Linked DNA regions of Homo sapiens. The protein of the gene in region 3 purifies or fractionates together with the protein of the main gene of each other region. This does not show direct contact. Each region holds a gene or a part of one and is shown on either strand. Other genes may lie near its edges.

Region 1 (7,028 bases), on a different chromosome or scaffold from region 3:
GAGTCATGCCACAGGGCGTGGGCAACTAGGAAACACAGTGAAAGACCTGAGCAGCCACTTAACCAGCCTGGGAGAGAATACACCCGTGAGCAGGCTGATGGAAGGGCTGCTGTGATTGGGGGTGGCTCTGGCAGCCGTGAGCCCCCACAAAACCTCCCATCTGTTGGTACTTACTGTAACTCTGAAAGTGAAGACGTCATCATGTCTCTCCTTAGGAGATACTGGTCATCCATAAAGGAACCGAGTGGCCTCCAAACTCAGGGGACCAAGGGAGGCTGGCACAGCCCTGGTCCTTCAAGTGACTAATGCCACACAGCTGCAAGGCTGAGGTGCTGTGCTGCTTGCAGTGCAGCTAGCACTAAGCAGCCAGCTGAAGAGGAGGATCCCAGTTCTGGGAACTGCAGAGAGAATTTCTAATTTTCCTGCATAGCAGATACTTCCCATAGCCTGATTCCTCCATTGGTAAAACTCTTAAAGAGTTGAAAAGCAAATCATTAGCTTCTCTTTTGTCCATATTACCAAGGGAAAGAAGGGAGAGTATATGAGATTACTCTTCCTTCTTTCTTGAGATGACTCATAAAATTTTATATTTAAACATTCCAAAAGTTACCTTGGCTGGGCTCATTATCTTCGGAAAAGTGTAAGAGGAGCATCCTTCCGGACTTTGGCCTAGGTGACTAAATGGTGTATGAAATGTTGCCTGCAGAGGCAGGAGAGAAAAGAAAACCATCTTTTCATGTGTGATTTTTTTTTTTTTTTTTGAGACAAAGGGTTTCGCTCTTTTGCCCAGGCTGCAGTGAAGTGGCGCGATCTCGGCTCACTGCAACCTCCACCCCTTGGGTTCAAGCGATTCTCCTGCCTCAGCCTCCACAGCAGCTACGATTACAGGCATGCGCTGCCATGCCTGGCTAATTTTTGTATTTTTCGTAGAGACGGGGTTTCGCCCTGTTGGCCAGGTTGGTTTCAAACTTCTTACCTCAGGTGATCCACCTGCCTCGGCCTCCCAAAGTGCTAGGATCACAGGCGTGAGCCACCATGCCTGGCTTCATGTGTTATTTTTAAAAATCACGATTTGCTTATAACTTCACAATACTTAATAATATTTATTTAAAAATTAAGATTATGTGGTTAATATGCACACACAATTCACCCTTTAAAAGTGTATAGTTGGATGAGTTTGAACAAATAGAGAGTTACATAGCCACCACCACTACTGACATGCGGAACATTTCAGCCACCCTGAAAGGTTCCGGGGGCCCTTCTGTAGTCAGTCCCTCCCTCCCACCCCCAAGCAACTGCTAATCTGTTTTCTGTCCCTACAGTTTTGACTTTTATAGAATGCTGTATAAGTGGAATCCTACATTCTGTAGCATTTTGAGTCTGACTTCTGAGAGTCACCATGCTGTTGTATGTATTAGTAGTTTGTTCCTCGCTATTTCTGAGTAGTATTCCTTTGTATGGATGCACAATAATATGTTTATCATTCACCAGTTAATGCCATTGGTGTTGTTTCTAGCATTCAAATGGTTGTACCATTTGACACTGCCACTAGCAACGTATGAAAGGCTACTATGAAGAAGGCTGCTATGAAAAACAAGTTGAACACCTTAAATATATCTAGTCGTGTGTTGCTTAACAATGGGGATATGTTCTGAGAAATGCATAATTAGGCAATTTTGTCATTGTGCCAATATCATGGAGTATACTTACATATACTTGGATGCCACAGCCTACTGCACACCTAGCTATGTGGTAATCCCTACTGCTTCCAGGCTACCAACTTGGACAGCATGTTACTATACTTAATACTCTAGGCAGTTATAACAAATGGCATTTGTGTATCTAAATATATCAAACATAGAAAAGGTAGGCCGGGTGTGGTGGCTCATGCCTGTAATCCCAACACTTTGGGAGGCAGAGGTGGGCAAATCACCTGAGGTCAGCAGTTCGAGACCAGCCTGGCCAACGTAGTGAAACCCCATCTCTACTAAAAATACAAAAATTAGCCTGGTGTGGTGGTGTGCACCTGGAGTCCCAGCTACTCGGGAGGCTGAGGCACAAGAATTGCTTGAACCCGGGAGGAGGAGGCTGCAGTGAGCCGAGATCATGCCACTGTACTCCAGCCTGGATGACAGAGTGAAAAAAAAAAAAGAAAAGGTATAGTAAGATATGGTGTTATAATCTTAGGAGACCAGCGTTTTACATGCAGTCTGCCATTGACTAAAATGTTGTTATGCAGCACCTGACTGTACAATTCTTATTTGTCAAGTATACCTCAATGAAACTGAAAAAAAATTTAAAAATAAAAATGTTCAGATAATGTTAACAAAAAGGCAGTTAGGAACACTTGTGTACAGGTCACTGGGTGAATCTCTTTTAAATTATCATAGGTAAATACCTAAGTGGTATGGCTGGTCTGTGTGGTAAATGTATATTTAGCTCAGAAGCTGCTAGACTGTTTTCTAGAGTGGTTGTACCATTTGACATTCCCACCAGCAATGTATGAAAGTTCCAATTGCTCCACATCCTCACTAAACCTAGCTATTAAGTCTTTTTCATTTTAACCATGCTAGTATGTATGTAGTGGGGTCTCACTGTGGTTTTAATTTACATGTCCCTAACCATTAATGGTATTAAGTCTCTTACCATGTACTTATTAGACATACGTATATTTTCTTTGGTGAAGCAACTGTTAAGATATTTTCTCCACTATTTTTTTAAGTTAGGCTGTTTACCTTCCTATTATATAGTTGTAAGATACACATTCAGATTGCAAGTCTTTTATTAGAGCGTCAGGCAAATCTTTTCTCCTGGTCTATGGCTTATCTTTTCATTTTCTCAGTGGTTTCTCTCATATGGTTTTAATAGCCCTTTATATTTCATTTTGTCTGACCTATTCATTCCTCACCATTGCCCATTTTTATTTTAGCTTGTGGATCTATCGCTTTATAGACAAACTTTAAAAAGTATCGTGGAGAGATCAGCTTTTGTTACATGAGTTGAAAAATTGTTTCCTCAATCTGTCATTTGTCTTGATTTTGCCCCAGTGGTTTTTTTGGTTGGCTTTAACTACTGGAATTAATTCAATATTGGTTATTTAGTATATAGTCATTTTTAGTTTTTTTTTTTTTTACATTTAAGACATATTTTTGTGTTTCTTAATGAATAAATTATGAAAGAATGTTAATTTAAAATTCATAATATGTAAAAGAATATTTAGATTTCATTTCCTATAATCAGACACGCTGTTGTTTTTACTATATAACTGTTAGAAGATATAAATCTATAACATATGCAGCATATACATAAAAATAATCACAATATTTTTAAAAGTTTCTGTTAATGTCATGTATCTTCTTTTTTTATCCAAAAGAAAACTTATTCAAAAAAATGTACCCAGAAGACACAGCCTAAGGAATACAAGCAGGAAACTGAGAAACCTGCCAACAACAGCTAAAGGGACACAAACAGGTACATGCAAAGTTGCCAGTAAGCAGCATTTAAAATGCTGATTTTCAGAAAGAGAGCAGCAGGTGGAGTTAAGGGTTTAGGCTCTGGCGTCAGACTACTTAGGGACGTTGGGAAAGTTTCTTACCCTCTCTGTACCACAGTTTTCTCATTTGTAAAATGGGAACCAATCCTTCTTTGCTTTTTTTTTTTTTTGAGACGGAGTCTTGCTCGGTTGCCCAGCCTTGAGTGCAGTGGCGCAATCTCAACTCGCTGCAACCTCCGCCTCCCGGGTTCAAGCGATTCTCCTGCCTCAGCCTCCCGAGCAGTTGGGATTATAGGCGTGCACCACCACACCCAGCTCATTTTTGTATTTTTAGTAGAGACGGGGCTTCACCATGTTGGCCAGGCTGGTCTCGAATTCCTGACCTCAAGTGATCCACCTGCCTTGGCCTCCCAAAGTGCTAAGATTACAGGCATGAGCCACCATGCCCAGCCTAGATTGTAAAACTTATTTTTGCCACATTGGAGGAGAATGTTTGTTTTTATAGACAGGGTCTCACTCTGTTGCCCAGCCTTACTCTTGCCTCAGCCTACCAAGTAGCTGGGACTACAGGCGCCTGCCACCACACCTGGCTAATTTTTGTATTTTTAGTAGAGAAGGGGTTTCACCACATTGGCCAGGCTGGTCTTGAACTCCCGACCTCAGGTGATCCACTTGCCCTGGCCTCCCAAAGTGCCAGGATTAGAGGCGTGAGCCACTGTGCCTGGCCAAGTCCTTCTTTCATCGGGCTACTCTGTACATTACGTGAATATGTGTGTGTGTATGCGTATATTTATAATATACATAATGCATGTGAATAGAGTGCCTAAACAGTGACCACTCAAAGATTTATTATTGTTATGATTTCTACCTTTTTCTTAACTCATACAGGAAATGTATCATTTGCTGACAGAGCTAATAGGCATTATTAACCATTGCCCACAGTATAAAATAGATTAAATGTACTGATTAATATTTTGGTTATATGGGTTAAATATTAACCCATCATTTAATATGATATTTATTCTTGAAGCCAATAATGGTAAATCTTATAAAACAATTTTTTCTACAGCCTTTTCCTTTAGCATATTTCCTTTATTTTATTTATTTTTTACTTATATATTTTTTTGAGACAGAGTCTCGCTCTGTCACCTAGGCTGGAGTGCAGTGGTACGATCTCGGCTCACTGCAACCTCTACCTCCTGGGTTCAAGCAATTCTCCTGCCTCAGCCTCCAATGTAGCTGGGATTACAGACACCCGCCACCAAGCCCGGCTAATTTTTATATTTTTAGTAGAGATGGTGTTTCACCATGTTGGCCAGGCTGGTCTTGAACTCCTGACCTCAGGTGATCTGCCCACCTCAATTTCCTTTATTTTAAATGATGCTTGATTTGTTTGGTTGGGTAAACTTTTATCAGAAGACACTATTTGACAAATAAATTTTACTTTTGGCCAAATTTTTTAGCATTTAATATATATATGCAATATACATATATTATAATATATATAGAATAGATATGTTTTATATGTATTATGTATATATGTTTTCTGATTTCAACATTTATTACAATTTATATCATAAGATGGAAGTCATCAACATTTTTAAAAGGTTGATGCAGGCCAGGCTCAGTGGCTCACACCTGTACTCCCAGCACTTCAGGAGGCCAACGCAGGCGAATCACTTGAGGTCAGGAGTTCGAGACCAGCCTGGCCGACACAGTGAAACCCTGTCTCTACTAAAAATACAAAAAAATTAGCTCGATGTGGTGGCACGCACCTGTACTACTCAGGAGGCTGAGTGGGAGAATCGCTTGAACCCGGGAGGTGGTGGCTGCAGTGAGCCAAGATCGTGCCACTGCATTCCAGCTTGGGTGACAGAGTGAGACTCCCATCTCTTAAAAAAAAAAAAATAAGGATGATGTATATTGAAAGTAATTTTCAATTCAGTGGGAGAATCAGAACAAGATTCAAATACAATATTTGCCCTCCAAGTATTAAAGAATGAGATCCCCAATTTTAGGTCAGGAACCATTGACCCAGTCCCTGTTAAAAGCAGGTCAATGACTAATCAGTCATCTAATACACAGACTGTGAACAAAGACATTGATTTCTGCCTTTGAACAGAAACCTCTACCTACAAAGGCTGGGCAGCCTGGCACCTAGAATCTCATTTGCTAATTTTGTGGGAAAATTATTCATAAGAATTAGGTCTGTCAATACATCCAATCTGGTTCAATGGAATCCAGCAAAAGAAAATTCGAAGAATTAAGGATGCTATTATATGGTCCTGTCTATCAGTGGGGAAAATACCTCTGAACAAAACTAGAAATCTCTTCAGTGGTAAAAACCATATGCTCCCTAGAAGGCTGCAATCATCAGCACAGTTTACCATCACATAAGCATAAGTCACTGGACAATCTGATACCCTAAAGGTGGTTATTAGGTGCTTGTAATGATAAAAATTGGAAACAGCCTAGGGTTCCAGCAGTCAGGGACTGGTTAAACAAGATAAGTTAATAACCCAAACGTTAGGACTGGTTATCTCTAGGTGGCAAGATAAGGAGTGATTTTTACCTTGTAGCTTTTCTTGGTACTTTTTCATATCTTTCAAAATTTTATTTTCCACTATGACATATATATTACTACTGTAGTAAAAATAAAAACTAAAATCTGTATAATGCAATGGTGAACACAAGGCTGAATTGTGTTCTGGGCAAGGAACTTCTCAGAGCTTCAGTTTTCTTATCTGCAAAGGAGGGAGTGACAGTAGATAATGCTCACAGGTCCTTCTCCTTCTAAAATTCTAAATCCATTTACTCAGTAAAAAGGATCAACTAATCCCTTGCACAACCTGCAAAGATGCTATTCCTCCCTCCCATAACAAATTTTCAAGTGTCTCCTGAATCTTTCAGAATAACATGAAAGCTGTATACCTATTGTGGAATTTGATTAGAATCCGGAACAGTCAGAGTTGGAACAATGTTCACAACAAAATGCAAGTTAATAATGAAGGAAAAATAAAATCAGTCAAATCAGCCTAATGCTTTGGGAAAAATCTAAATTCAGTTAATTCTACCACAAACAACATGTAACCTGCTTATGACTGGCAACGCTGAAGGAGGATTCAAAGGCTCTCATCTCGCGCTGCTTGCCTGACCTCTTGCTTTCTAGGAGCTGACTTACCCTGTCAGATGCATACACGGCATCGAATAGCCCAAGGAGGGTGACGGAGATGCCCACAGCTGGACCATTGACCACTGCAATCAGAGGCTTAGGAAAATCTATAAAACAGCCCACAAATTCCCTACAGAAATGGAAACACAAAATCATTAAATGTGCCAAAGCAGCATGACTAAAGCATGGGCAAGACAGTCTGACTCTGAGATAAAGCCTTCTGTCAGGCTGGGTGTTTCCACAGCCACCACCAGCAGTGCCTCCTTGTCCTGCCACTTCCCTGGTCTTCCGCACCAGATTCATCCAGGGCATCCGTCTGAATGGCAGTGGATGGAAGACCAACCAGTGAGACCTATGGGTCAA
Region 2 (7,028 bases), on a different chromosome or scaffold from region 3:
TAATTGATTGGTTTCAGGATCCAATAAACTCTACAGGTAAATCCACTAAGGTAATGGTCTATACCGGTGGTTCCTGAACTTGAGTGTGCAGCAGAATTACCTGGAAGGCTTCTTAAAACACAGATTTCTGTCCCCACCTCCCAGGATTTGATTCAGGCGGCCTGCTGTGGAGCCTGAGAATGTACATTTCTAACAAGTTACCAGGTACTACAGATGCTTCTGTTCTGGAGACTGTGCTGAGAACCACTATGCTATATCTTTCCAGGGACAGTAAGGATCCCACTAAAAAGACAAGAATTCGATTTTTATCAGTTTACTAAATCAACATCTTATATTTCTATACTAAACACTAGCCACTACTTGAGGTTTATTACTGTTGTGATTATGTTTATAAAACAGGGACATCTTGCATACCCCTAATGGTGTGAATAAAATCAACTGTGTCAGTACCTTTGAGCACTTCATAACTTAAAATTCTAAAAAATTGAGATTTGGACCTACAGTTTGCTATTTAACAGACCAGGTCTGGTCTTGACAGTAAAGCCACCATCAAAAGCTGCATTAAGAACCTCATCCAGGCAGCTTGCTGTGACAAAACTTAAATCCTGTCGTACGTTGCCTGGGATTCCCTCAAGGTCTTTTTCATTTCTCCGAGGAATAATGACTTGCTTCAGTCCCGCTCTGTGTGCCGCCAGCACTTTGTCTTTAATTCCACCCACCTGTAAGGAGAGAAAAAAGTTTTTAGGGTTAATGATCACCCTCAAGCTGAAAGAAACCCTGACCCAGCTTTCTTTCACTGAATTTAACCACTACTATTTTAAAACATCCAAATCATCTTCCGTTTTGTTATAGCATGAGCTAGGAAAGCCAGGAAAAAGGATAAGTAGTAACCTTTTTTTAATGTTTCAATTGGTGTTATATTAAAGACTCTGATGAGGGGGATTCTAAATTGTTGATAGGTATGAGTTCCTCTTCTGTCAATGATTGTTTTTATAAATGCTGTCAAAGTAAATTGGCATTCAGGTGTAATCACAACCGTCTAGTCTTTAGGTTGATCTGAAAAAGCAGCACGTGATTCTGACCATGAGCGCCGCTCCTGCAGAGCTTAGCTGTGTGCTGGGGTTACTTCCCTCTCTACAGGTTTAAAGCCAGAACCTCCATGCTGGTTAATGAAGAAAATGTATCCCTAAACTAGGCTCCTATGGTGGCTTTCAAACATGTCTACAATGGTCCCCCTGCTTGAATGTGGGCCAGGCTTTGTGACTCGGTAAGAAACAGAGTGTGGTGGGAGTGATGCTGTATGATCTCCACGGCTGAGTCACAAAAAACGAGAGCTGCTGCCTGAATCTCTCTTGATCACCTGCCCTGGAGGTGGCCAGTCATAATGTCTGAGGTCACTCAAGCAGCCTATGGGCAAGTCCATCAGGTGAGGAACTGGGGCCTCCTGCCACTAGATGGGACCAATTTGCCAGTCACATGAGTCAACCACCATGGAAGCAGTTTCTCCAGCCTGTCAGCCTTCATGTGACTGCAGCCTGGCTGGAACCTAGACTGTAAGGCCAGAGACCCTGGGCCACAAGAACCCAGCTCAGCCTCTCCTGAATTCCTGGCCCACAGGAACTTGAAGAGTATGGAGTATTCTTGCTTTGGGGTAATGTGTTGCATCTGCTCCAATTAAGACTGGCTGGCTGCTCCAGGCCTTCCCGCCCCACTGGCATCTTCTTTCAAGGTTTTGTTCATGCTGCTGAAGTACTCCTTCAAAGTACCTTCTTCAAAAGAGTGTAAGATGAACTGATTCCTTGCATGTTTGAAAATATTTTACTTTCACACTTGATTGATACTAAGGCCATGTATACAAGACTAGATGTAAAACATTTTCCCTCACAGCTTTCATTACTATTTTTTTTTTTTTTGAGACAGTCTTACTCTGTCACCCAAGCTAGAGTGCAGTGGCACAATCTTGGCTCACTGCAACTTTCTGCCTCCCAGGTTCAAGCGATTCTCCTGCCTCAGCCTCCTGAGTAGCTGGGATTACAGGCATGCGCCACCACATCCGGATAATTTTTTTGTATTTTTAGTAGAGACAGGGTTTCACCATGTTGGCCAGGCTGGTCTCAAACTCCTAACCTCAAGTGATACGCCCACCTTGGCCTCCCAAAGTGTTGGAGTTACAGGCGTGAGCCACCACACCCAGCCTCCTTACTATTTTTAAAACAATTTTTGTAGAGATATATTTCCCAGGCTGGTCTTGAACTCCTGGACTTGAGCTATCCTCCTGTTTAGCCTCCCAAAGTGCTGGGATTACAGACGTCAGCTGCCACGCCTGGCCCATTTTCCCTCATAGTTTTGAAGGTACTGCACATCCAGTGTCAGTGCTGAGGCCGCTTTATCCTCAGTAATCTGAAAAGTCAAGGGGATGAAATGTTTTTCCTGGTTAGTAATGGTCCTTTCGATCTCAAGATGCCTTAACTTCTAGGAAATGTTCAGTTATTTCTTGGATAATTTGTTCCATTCCATTTTCCTGTTTGTTAGAACTCCTTTTAGATGTTGGAGTTCTAACAACAAATTGTTTTTCACTATAGTTTTTTCCTGAATAATTCTTTGACCACTTTCAAATCCCAAAGCCCCGTCTTGTCCTCTGTTCTCAAAGGAGGTTTTCTCCAGCTTTCACAGGCCTTTCTTTCAAGTGCTGCTGCTTTCCATCCTGCCTCTTGTAATGGTCTGGAGCTGAAGGTGTACCCCAGGCCGCTGTGGCTGTCTCTCCTGAGGCTGCAGAAGCCTTTACTTGGGCTACGATTTGCTCTGAGAGGGGACCAAGTAGAAAACCCATTTGTTCTATGGAGGTTCTAAAAATAGAAAAAATTATCCGGGCGTGGTGGCGCATGCTTGTAATCCCAGCTAGTTGAGAGACTGAGGCAGGAGAATCACTTCAACTTGGGAGGCAGAGGTTGCAGTGAGCCAAGATTGTGCCACTGTACTCCAACCTGGGTAAGAGAGCCGGACTCCATCTCGATAGAAAAAAGAAAAAAAGACTATTTCTTTTTTTTTTTCCTCATCTTGCTATGAACCTGCCAAAATCTTGTTGTGGACTAAAATTGTAGTCTAGTCTGTTGTAGACTAATACTCAACTAACAACTTTAAATACTCTCAAGTTCTGTACATTTTATCACACTATTTTTATAAGCAGTTTAGGATCTGGAGCCTCAAGACCCCACATGTATAGAACCTTTTCAAAATGTAGTCATTAGATATGGTTAATCTTTATTAGAGTTTCCATTCTATACTAGCAAAGTTTTCTGCAGGGGGACAGGAGGTCTCAAAGAAACTTCAAATTTAAGAAATGGGCTTAAAGCTTAAAAACAACTACTATCCCATTTTGCACATGTGCTATATCTTTAACAATTTGTCAAGTAGAACAAGGCCTCAAATTTTCATGTAACTGCCAATATTTCTGATGACCACACTAATATTTTTTTCCCTTAGCAAATCTTAGAATGGGAAACGTGGGCTGAATGTGGTGGCTCACGCCTGTAATCCCAGCACTTTGGGAGGTGGAGATGAGAGGACTGCATGAGACCTGGAGTTTGAGACAAGCCTGGACAACACAGAGAGACCCTGTCTCTACGCAAAATAAAATAAATTAGCTGAGCATGGTGGCGTGCTCCTATAGTCCCAGCTATTCGGGAGATAGACAGGAGGATCGCTTGAGCCCAGGACTTGGTGGCTATAGTGAGCTACAGTCACACCACTGCACTCCAGCCTGGGCAACAGAGTGAGACCTGTCTATTTCAAAAAAAAAAAAAAAAAAAAAAGGAAAATGTGAAAAATTGTCAGTTTTTCTTTTATTTGATCAAAATTTTAAAATATGAATTAGTTACAGGCATAAAAATATAATATATACTTAAAACCAAGGTTTTCATAGAAAGAAGGCAAACCCGTATTTAAAAATAATATTAATTTTCAAAAATTAAATAAAAAATAACCATATAAATTGTTTTTTCATACTTACTGGAAGAACAAGACCTCTCAGTGTAATTTCTCCAGTCATGGCTACATCTGAACGTACCAGCCGCCCACTAAAAAGTGAGGCGAGACAGGTTACTATGGTAACTCCAGCAGATGGTCCATCTTTTGTGACAGCTCCAGCTGGGAAGTGCAGATGGATGTCTGTGTTGTCAAGAAGATCAAAACTTCCAAAAGCTTTAAAAAGGAAAAAGGGACTTTAATGTAGAAAAATTAAACCTGTTTTCTTTTTCTCCTAAAAAAAAAGTCACAAACAAAAATGAATGTTTTGGGTAAATGAATTCTTCAAAATATTGGTGGACAGTACAATTTGGGTGAGGGTGTGGAAGAACAGTTCCATTCTACTCTAAGTCGTATTAAAACAAAATAAACCTTTTGAATTAGTTTCTAGTTCAGGCACTAGTCAAATAGTCCTGAAATGGGAACTAGGATTTCCACAGGGGTTCAAAACGGTGTGTACTTTGCTAGATGTGTAACTGGCAGTCTCGAGCTCATGCCAGTCTCCGCCATGGAAGGTACCGCCTCCTGGGTCACGCCTGCCTGGCCGGGTGCAGGCTCCTACCATTGGTCAGCTGGTACTTCTTTGCGTTGCTGCGGAGCCAGCTGATAGCGAGGTGGGCGGACTCCTTCATCACGTCCCCGAGCTGGCCGGTCAGAGTTAACTGGCCCTCGCCATCCATTCGACTCGCCTCCACGAACATGATTTCTCCACCTAAGGGAGTCCAAGCCAAACCTATTGCTACTCCTGGCTGACTCAAACGCTGAGATACCTTGAAAGAAGAAGAATGATCAGAGTTGGGTTGGCAAATGCTAAAGGTGACTGATACCACACAATCCTGCAAGAGTCGGCTGACTCCACAGAAGACTTCAGCCACTTACCTCAAAGTCCTTGTTACCTAACATGATTCTGCGTCACATTCAGCACTTACTCTCTGGCTTTCTGCCAGAAGAAAGACCTAAACTTCCTCTTTGACATTTATCAGAGGCAATTTTACCTTAAAATATATGTAAATAACTTTGCTTTTTATGAGCCAGATCTAGCTACACATGCCCTAGTTTTCAAGGAATAAACCCAATAGTTTTATCTAAGTATCTTTATTGGGCTGCAAATATATATATATTTTGAGACAGTCTCACTCCATTGCCCAGGCTTGAAGTACAGTGACACAATTTCAGCTCACTGAAAACTCTGCCTCCTGGCTTCAAGTGATTCTCCTGCCTCTGCCTCCCAAGTGGCTGGTACTATGGGCGCACACAGGCCACCACACCCGCTAATTTTTGTATTTTTTGTAGAGATGTGGTCTCACCATGTTGGCCAGACTGGTCTCAAACTCCTGACCTCAAGTGATCTGCCTGCCTCAGCCTCCCAAAGTGCTGGGATTACAGGTGTGAGCCACCACACCCAGCCTATTGGGCTGCATATTTATATATACTTCATAACCTAGCTTCATTTTAGGTAATCATGAATTTGTTTCAAAAAGTAGAAACCCTCTTACTAGCAGACCTTTAAGAAGAGTGAGCTTGGCCATGCAGAGTGGCTCATGCCTGTAATCCTAGCACTTTGGGAGGCTGAGACGACAGGATCGCTTGAGCCCAGGAGTTCGATAGAGACCAGTGTGGGCAACATGGTGAGACCCTCTTATTTTTTTTGAAAAGAAAAGTGAGAAGGGTTATATTAGAAACTCTAGATTTTACTTCTCCACCGCTTACCTTTAACTTTCTCTATTACTGCTGCAGAGACTATACAATACTACATAATAAACATCCTGGGTTCCTTCCCATGGGATGAGAGAGGTCCACTGTACTGCCTGCCATCTTAAATTGAACATGTTGTCACCTGAGACTAGGAGCATAGTTGATGGGCCATAGGTTAACACATCCAAGTTATGAAAACACTAAAAAGTAACAGTGGAAAATCAGTAATGTTAACTCTCATTACACCCTTTGAGCTTCAAAATTTCCTATCCAATAGAAGTTACTCATGTTAGAGGAACTGAACACAATAGGTCAACTAAGCACTAATCCAAACAGGAGATTTTTCTACTGAGAGTTGACCGTCTCACTAAGGAACAGCACTATACAGCTTGACTTTCTGGGTATGGGGCTGGGTTGCTTCTTTTTCTAAGGGGCTTGGACAATGAAATTCCTGATTGTAAAAATTATTCCAAAATTATGTGGCATCCATTGAAGCTATTGGGCACTTCTTTTCCTCTTTTTTTTTTTTTTTTTTTTGAGACATGAGTCTCACTCTGTCGCCTGGGCTGGAGTGCAATGGCACAATCTTGGCTCAATGCAACCTCCGCCTCCTGGGTTCAAGCAGTTCTCCTGCCTCAGGCTCCGAGTAGCTGGGATTACAGGCATGTATCACCACACCCAGCTAATTTTTGTATTTTTAATAGAGACAGTGTTTCGCCATGTTGGCCAGGCTGGTCTCAAACTCCTGACTTCAGGTGATCTGCCAGCCTCGGCCTCCCAAAGTGCTGGGATTACAGGCGTGAGCCTCTGCGTCTGGCCGAGCACTTATTTTCAGTAGTAAACATACATTAAAAAAAATTAATCCTAATTAACTTCATTTAACAGGTTAGAGATTTGAGAGGCCAAACTCCAGCATCAAGCTGACAGCATGTACCTCAGGTCACACTTTCCTCGAGCTTTGCCACTTGCCCTGTTCTATACTAACTTGAGGCGAAAGACACAAACGATCTATATGTAAGAGATCAGTACTACTTAAGGAAAATCATGAAACAGTTATTTATAAAACTGTTTACAAGGTTTGTTTTTTCTAATATAAAATCAATTCTCTATACCTGAATGACATACATCTAATTTGTGTGGGAATCTGTCACCCAAATTAGACTTCATTCAGGCTCCTTTCTAGGGTTGGGTGAATGAATCGTGTTTAACACAAAAAGTCATTTGGTACAATTTTGTTAACTCTACCAAGAATAATCCCTTTCTTATATTTGAATCCTCACAATTCATTTGTCAAAATAATACCAAAAGTA
Region 3 (7,028 bases):
TAATAAATTTTGTGGATTCTCTGTTCCTTACTGTATAGTGAGGTAAGTGAACTGAAGGGAAACTAATTTTAAAGTCAAAGTATGTTAAAAACACAAAAAACCTCTTAATAAATATTAAGCCACGTAACTGTCAGGGAAATAGAATGCTCAGGTGATTTAGTGTTTTAAGTGTCCAAGAAGGCAGCTGCTTTTCCAAACCAGTGATACAGTTTACTCTAAAAGTGACCCACCACACACCAAGAACCAAGAGAAATGGGCTCTCAAACTTGTCTTATAGGCAAGAGCTGAGGTCAGGTAGAAACAAGTATACAAAAAACACAGTGACCTCAGCTCTGTAGCCTCTCCCACCTGTTTCCTCATTTGAAAAATAAAAACACTGGACTGTTATTTTGGCCAGTGAATTTGTTATGGGAGTGAAGTATAAAAAATAAAGTGACTGAGAAAATGCCGAGAATATAAAAATGCTTTTAAGAATCTAAAATGGCCGGGCGCGGTGGCTCACGCCTGTAATCCTAGCACTTTGGGAAGCCAAGGCAGGCAGATTACCTGAGCTCAGGAGTTCGAGACCAGCTTGGGCAACACAGTGAAACCCTGTCTCTACTAAAATACAAAAAATTAGCCAGGCATGGCGGCGTGCACCTGTAGTCCCAGCTACTCGGGAGGCTGAGGCAGGAGAATGGCTTGAACCTGGGAGGTAGAAGTGGCTGTGAGTGGAGATCATGCCACTGCACTCCAGCCTGGGTGACAGAGTGAGATTCCATCTCAAAAAAAAAAAAAAAAAAAAAAAAAGAATCTAAAATGGATAAATGGATGCAAGGCATGGTAGCTCATGGCTGTAATCCCAGTAAGTACTTGGGAGGCCAAGGAGAGAGGATCACTTGAGGCCAGGGGTTCAAGACCAGCCGGGCAACATAGCAAGACCCAACCTCTACAAAAACTAAAAAAAATTAGCTGGGCCTGGTGGCATGTGCCTATGATCCAACTACTCAGGAGGCTGAGGCAAGGGGATCTCCTGAGCCCAGGAGTTTGAAGTCTCAGTGAGCTGTGATTGCGCCACTGCACACCAGCCTGGACAACAGAGTGAGATCACTTCTCTTGAAAACAAAAACAGAATCTGAAGTGGGAGGAGCAATTGGAATTATTAAATTATTAAAGGATTTGGTGACAGACTCTAATTATGTTTTCCTTATTCAAAAACAAGCCCCAAACTGAAGTAAATAAAATGTGAGGTATATGTAACTAAGTATACCTTACTACAGAGTGTATATAACTCATAGACATTCTTGCTCAAATGAGAATAGCTTCTGGAAGCACTTTGGCAAAAATAAAAAAAGGCCAAAGGTGGGGAAAAAACCTTCAAGACACAAAAACTGCAGTTCTCTCTCCCTCAGGTATGATCCAAGAATAGCTGTCTGCTTTGGAAGAATCCAGAATGGGTCAAGAGAATAGCAAATCCTGTGGCCCTGTATATGAATGATTCTAGATAGAATGTGGGATGTCACTGAGCAAAACTAGAGGTGGGGAAATTCATCTTATTCATATCACCTTGCAACACTACTAGAGTATTCTTTCCTTGCCCCCTAAAAAAGCTACTCAGGCTGGACTGGTAGTCAAACCTTTAGCCAGTGTTCTCAACTTTCCCATCTACACACCCTAAATAGCAGGGTTAGGACAAGGCGGCTCGGCGCTGAAGGCTCGCAGATGAATTAATTGAAATCTGTCTCAATTCTTGTGTGTGTTGTAGTATACCATAATATATTCATGTTTGCGTTTTTCAAATAAAATTTGACCATCCAAGAGGCTGAGTGATATACATCCTATCTTCACAAACCCCAGTTAAAGGGTTATGAAGTTAGAATATAATCAAAAGACTGTACCTTTTATTAAAGGGATGCTGTATTTGTCAACAGAAGGTGTTGAGAGGAGTTTCTTGGCCAGGACTGTTAAATCCTTCGATAAGGTTTTTGTTACAGTCGTCCAGGCTGAGATTTTCACTGGATCTCTTGGGGAATGTCGGGGGACCAGTGAAATCTAAGAGATCTTGAAGTGCTCGGGCATTACCAGTTCCATTTTGGTCCAGAGACACCCCAGGAATCATTTCACTCACTGGTGAAAATTCCGGGATAGAGATAAGCTCTTCTTTTGAAACAGGACTAGAAGAGATGAACGAGAGGGAGAGAGGCAGAAAGAGACAGACAGACAACATGGCACAATATATTAATTCTATTTGCAATATTTTGTTTTACTACTCTTCTAAAGAAGAAGGATTTAGAGTCAGAGTTTTTGTGTAACACACTGTAAAAAATACAAGTGGGCTCAAATCTGAGGAGGACAGATGGTGGACACGAGGCCCCATGTATGAGAACAGGGAAGCAGATTGAGCAGGGCTGTGATGGCCAAGGTCACATTGCCCAAAGGGTGAAAGGACAAAAACCCACAGGCACCAGCATTCTACCACAAAGAAGCAAGGCATTCCAGAACTTTCTAAATGGGACATTCAGACAGAAAGCCAATGCCAAAAGTTCAAAGCAAGTTGAAGAAGAACCCTAATTAACAGTGGGGCTCCCAGTGCTGCCTTTCTAGTAGTGCCACCTTGGGCGAATTGCTTTTCCTTCCTGCAGCCTCAGTTTCTTCGCCAGTAAAATGGGAACAATTGTTTCTCTCTGCCAGGGCTCCTGTGAGTGTGAATCTGATCGTGCTGAGAAGAGTTCATGTGGAAACGCCTGAAGTGCTCAGTTAAGGTTGGGGGGCCCATAATGAAAGGATCCCACCACAGCCCACGTCATCACTGGCAAAGCCAATCTCACGCTCTGCTTCCTCTCTAAAGTGAGGCTTCCAATCCACTCTGACTTATCCAGCTCCAGCCCAGCCAAGGCTGGTTTTCTTTCTCTCTCTCTCTTCCTCTCCCTAGAGATGGAAGGAGGAGTTTCATAATTGCGCCAGCTGTAAGGCCTAGCAAAGGAACAAATCCAGGCTCTGAAGAGTGGTGGGCTGAGGGCCTGTCACCAGGAATCTCTTAACAGCCAGAGTAAAGCTGCTGCCAGGTTCTTCTTTTTCTTCCTTGTGAGATCTTAGAGAAGAATCTAGAAAAACCAGAACTGCAGAAGCTCAGAGGAACTGTCTCTGGTGGAAATTCATCCTCCAGAGCTCCCATGGGGTCAGCTGAGAAGGCATCCTTGCTTAGCGAATTCCCTCCTTCCCCTTTCTCCTGAAAAACTCCCAAGAGCTTTCCTCTAACAAATCACATGCCCTAGAAACTCTGTTCCAGGCTCTGCTTCTAGGGAACCTGACGCAAGACACTAGAATGTTATACCACTGAGAGCTTTCCTGTAATGTCAATCAAACCTGCTTTAGGTGATTTGGTTGTATAAAAGACGAAGAAACCAACTAAAAGAAAGGGTAGTGTTTCGAGAAGTGATGAGGCTTAAATGCAAAAGAAATGAATATACCTCACATCCATAGACTGAACTTCTTCAGTTGAATCATCCAGGCTATTTGATTTCCCATCAAGGGCATCCAGATGAATGAGTCCCCCAGCTGGCTTAAGCCCATTAGAGAAAATGTCTTGGGGATAAGTTTCTGGGGCAGCGTGATCCACACCATTAACTTCCTGGCAGGTGTTCAATCCATTGATTTCTGATCGAGAACACAAAGTCCCTTGTGTTAATCATAAAATGTCTAAATAAAGTAACAGAGAAATATAGATCAAGGCAATTAATTTAATGCTCTGCTTCACTGATACTGCAGCATCTTTTGTGGAAAGAGCCACAAATAAACCCATATAATCACCTTCACACAGGAGAAGAGAAGACAAATCACATTATCAGTGTCTGTGCAGAACCTCTGGAGAAGAGCAGAGTCAGGTCCTAACAGTAATAAAACCTGACCAGCAGTTAAGCTCCCTGGAAAGCACTGTGAGCCAGCAGCCAGAGTGCCTCCTATGCTGGGATTATGGGAGTAACCAAGGAACCCAGTGGGTTCCCAAGTGGAGCTGACAGTCCCTGTGCTGGAGACACATTCCCAGGGAAGGGAAACTGCACAGGCCCCTGCCAGCAGTCACCCTCTTGGGATCCATGGGTCTGTTTACCCTACACCAAGTCTTACGAGCTTTTGCTACTAAAAGGAAGAACCCAAGAACCAGATGTCACACTCACCCATTTTGTTGGGGACAACCAGTTTTGTCTTCTTTTCCACACACACAGCAGGCTGGACCCCCACTTTGGGGTCTTCTTTCTGAAAACAAATGGAAGGTGAATGAAATGAGGGAAGGCTGACATCACACAGAAAAAAAGTACTTTTTAAAAGCATCCGATGATATTTTGAGCCTGGACCATCTGCCTGTTCTGTGGTAATTCTTTAAATCTTCAGCTGTGTTTCCCTTATTCTTACGTATTTTTATGTCAGGATTCTCTTTTTTATTCATGGACTACTATGCCTCTCTCTTCATCCCACCTCCCATGACTCTAAGGAAATCTCTTACCCATCCCACCTCTGAAGCCCCTCTTTCTTTTCAGGTACCTAACCCTCCTTAACCTAGCCAGGAACAAAGCAGGAAAACTGCATTTTTTTCTGGCTAATCGTCGCCAAGACCTACAATTTCACTGAGTGTATTCTGCTGTTCTTTTCTACTTAGTACATAAACTATTAAAATGGTCATTTGAATTCCTACCTTCACTTGTGGAGACACATCACTTTTCCTTGTTCTCTTCATGATTTCATCTATTCTCTAAAAACAAAAAACAAAAAACAAAATCAAGTAAGAGGACAATAAGACCAAAAACATAAAAGTAGCTTGGTTTACATGCAATGTCACATTTCTCAGAAAACTTGTAAAAGGCAAAAGTCAGAAGAGGATAACAAGTATAGAAAGGTTTTCCACTAGTTTTGGAGATGTACACCTCCGGCCCCATGGACAAGGTCAAATGCTTGAGAAGTTAACTAGTACGTATCTAGAATCAATATTCGATTTATATCCCATATTTCTCCTTCTTCTCCTTAGGCTCTGTATAAATCAACAAATTACCACCTGCCATTAAAGAGCACCACCCTACAGAAAGTGAGGCTGAGGCTGAGGTGCATCTCAGGAGAGAAGGCCACAGGCTGGTCTCCTGGATCCCAGGCCTACAGCAATACAAAGCCCAGGTTGGGCCTAGGACACCATGAGAATACTCCTTTATAATCAGTCTGCTTAAACCCAATTTTACCCATAAGTATAGTTAGTGTAAATGGACTAAACACTCCAATTAAAAGACAAAGACTGTCAAACAGAATTAAAATAACAATTCCTGGCTATATGCTCTTTACTTATAAAAACACACAGAAGAAGTTTTAAGTAGAAGGGTGAAAAAGATTTGACATACAGACACTAATCATAAAAGGGCTGTCAGGCCAAGCACAGTGGCTCACGTCTATAATCCCAGCACTTTGGAAGGCCGAGGCAGGAGGATCCCTTGAGTCCAGGAGTTCGAGACCAGCCTGGCCAACATGGTGAAATCCCATCTCTACTAAAAATACAAAAATTAGCCAGGTGTGGTGGTGTGCGCCTGTAATCCCAGCTAGTTGGGAGGCTGAGGCAGGAGAATCGCTTGAACCTGGGAGGTGGAGGTTGTGGTGAGCCGAGATCACACCACTGCACTCCAGCATGGGCAATAGAGTGAGACTGTCTCAAAAAAATAAAAGGCAGGGGGCTGTCAAAGTAGACTTTAAGACAAGAAATATCACTAGAGACAAAGGCATATCACGATAAATATATATAAAACAAAACCTGACAGAACTGAAAGGAAAAATGGACAAATCCATAATCACAGATGGAGTTATTCTTTTTTCTATTATTTGGGACAGGGTCTCACTCCTGTTCCCCAGGCTGGACTGCAGTGGCATGATCTCGGCTCACTGCAGGCTTAACTTCCCGAGTTCAGGTCATCTTCCCACCTCAACCTCCTACGTAGCTGGGACTACAGACACATGCCATCACACCCAGCTATTTTTTGTATTTTTAGTAGAGACAGGGTTTCACTGTATTACTCAAGCTGGTCTGGAACTTCTGGGCTCAAGTGATCCTCCCGCCTCTGCCTCCCTAAATGCTGGGATTACAGGTGTGAGCCACCATGCCTCGCTACAGATGGAGTTTTTAACAATCTTTCTCAATCACTGATGGAACGAGATGGCAAAAAACTAATAAAGACATAAAAGATTTGAACAGTGGTATCAATGAACTTGACCTAACTGACAATCCTAGGATCATTCTATCCAATCACTGCAGAAGAGAACTGGATTTACTTCCTGTTCACTTACCCTAGGTCTTCCTGACCCTCAGCCCTTACCTTCTTTCTCTCCAGTCTCTCCTGCTCAATCTGCAGCATAATCTGTTCTCTCTCGAGACGCATCTGTTCAGCTACCTCCCGGGCCTTTGTTTCTGCTGCTTCTTTCTAACAGAAACAGGTAAATCAAGGCAAAGCTTTAATAAGCTAAGAAAACAGTGTGGTAATTCCCTGGCTTTGCACATGTTCCTTCATCTCATCATCTGCCCTAAAGTGGATGCTGCTCCAATATTCAATGTGGATTTATACAAACCACTGCATGACACAGCAAACATGGTTGGACCTCATTCATATACCCCTGGCTCACCATGCAAATCACCTGCAGACAGTTCTCACACATGGCCAAGGCTTTTCTGTGTCTGTGGGCAGGCTTGGGCCATGAAGTGTGCATGTGGCCAGATCAGAGAGTTAATTCCCCAGGGAGTGACCTTCTACTACCGTGAAGGGCAGGATGTGGTAGATAAGTAGTTCAGTTTCCTCATCCCTCAGCTGGACAATTCTAAAGCATGATCCACAGTCTGTCAGAGGTTCCCAATGGGACTGTGTTCCAGTCACCCACAGTAACACATGCATCAATGCACTTACATTGGCTTTTCTCCTATTCCTCTACCAGCTTCCTGGGATTCGCTTGCAAAAAAAACTGCTGGCACTCAAATTCTTAGCCCAGGGTTTGCCTTTGGGGAAACCCTAACTCACAGATGGCAAACA

Evidence for each region. Proteins that work in one complex are often made in the same cells at the same time.
Region 1: the proteins of MAP7D2 (region 3) and ECI2 purify together in Homo sapiens (affinity purification with mass spectrometry; 2 studies listed by BioGRID and IntAct, with this or other methods). This does not show direct contact.
Region 2: the proteins of MAP7D2 (region 3) and LONP2 purify together in Homo sapiens (affinity purification with mass spectrometry; 2 studies listed by BioGRID and IntAct, with this or other methods). This does not show direct contact.

What each region holds. Positions count from the first base shown.
Region 1 is NC_000006.12:4,118,576-4,125,603, forward strand, and holds part of ECI2 (enoyl-CoA delta isomerase 2), read right to left. Parts: exon of another isoform or gene 6,796-7,028; coding exon 6,675-6,795; exon of another isoform or gene 6,385-6,674; intron 3,472-6,384; exon of another isoform or gene 3,374-3,471; intron 701-3,373; coding exon 611-700; intron 1-610. UniProt on the Homo sapiens protein: Able to isomerize both 3-cis and 3-trans double bonds into the 2-trans form in a range of enoyl-CoA species. Has a preference for 3-trans substrates.
Region 2 is NC_000016.10:48,345,272-48,352,299, reverse strand, and holds part of LONP2 (lon protease homolog 2, peroxisomal), read right to left. Parts: exon of another isoform or gene 5,389-7,028; intron 4,794-5,388; coding exon 4,586-4,793; intron 4,201-4,585; coding exon 4,010-4,200; intron 720-4,009; coding exon 498-719; 3' UTR 1-497. UniProt on the Homo sapiens protein: ATP-dependent serine protease that mediates the selective degradation of misfolded and unassembled polypeptides in the peroxisomal matrix.
Region 3 is NC_000023.11:20,008,900-20,015,927, forward strand, and holds part of MAP7D2 (MAP7 domain-containing protein 2), read right to left. Parts: intron 6,429-7,028; coding exon 6,324-6,428; intron 4,727-6,323; coding exon 4,670-4,726; intron 4,234-4,669; coding exon 4,155-4,233; intron 3,637-4,154; coding exon 3,450-3,636; intron 2,154-3,449; coding exon 1,904-2,153; 3' UTR 1,878-1,903; intron 1-1,877. UniProt on the Homo sapiens protein: Microtubule-stabilizing protein that plays a role in the control of cell motility and neurite outgrowth via direct binding to the microtubule. Acts as a critical cofactor for kinesin transport.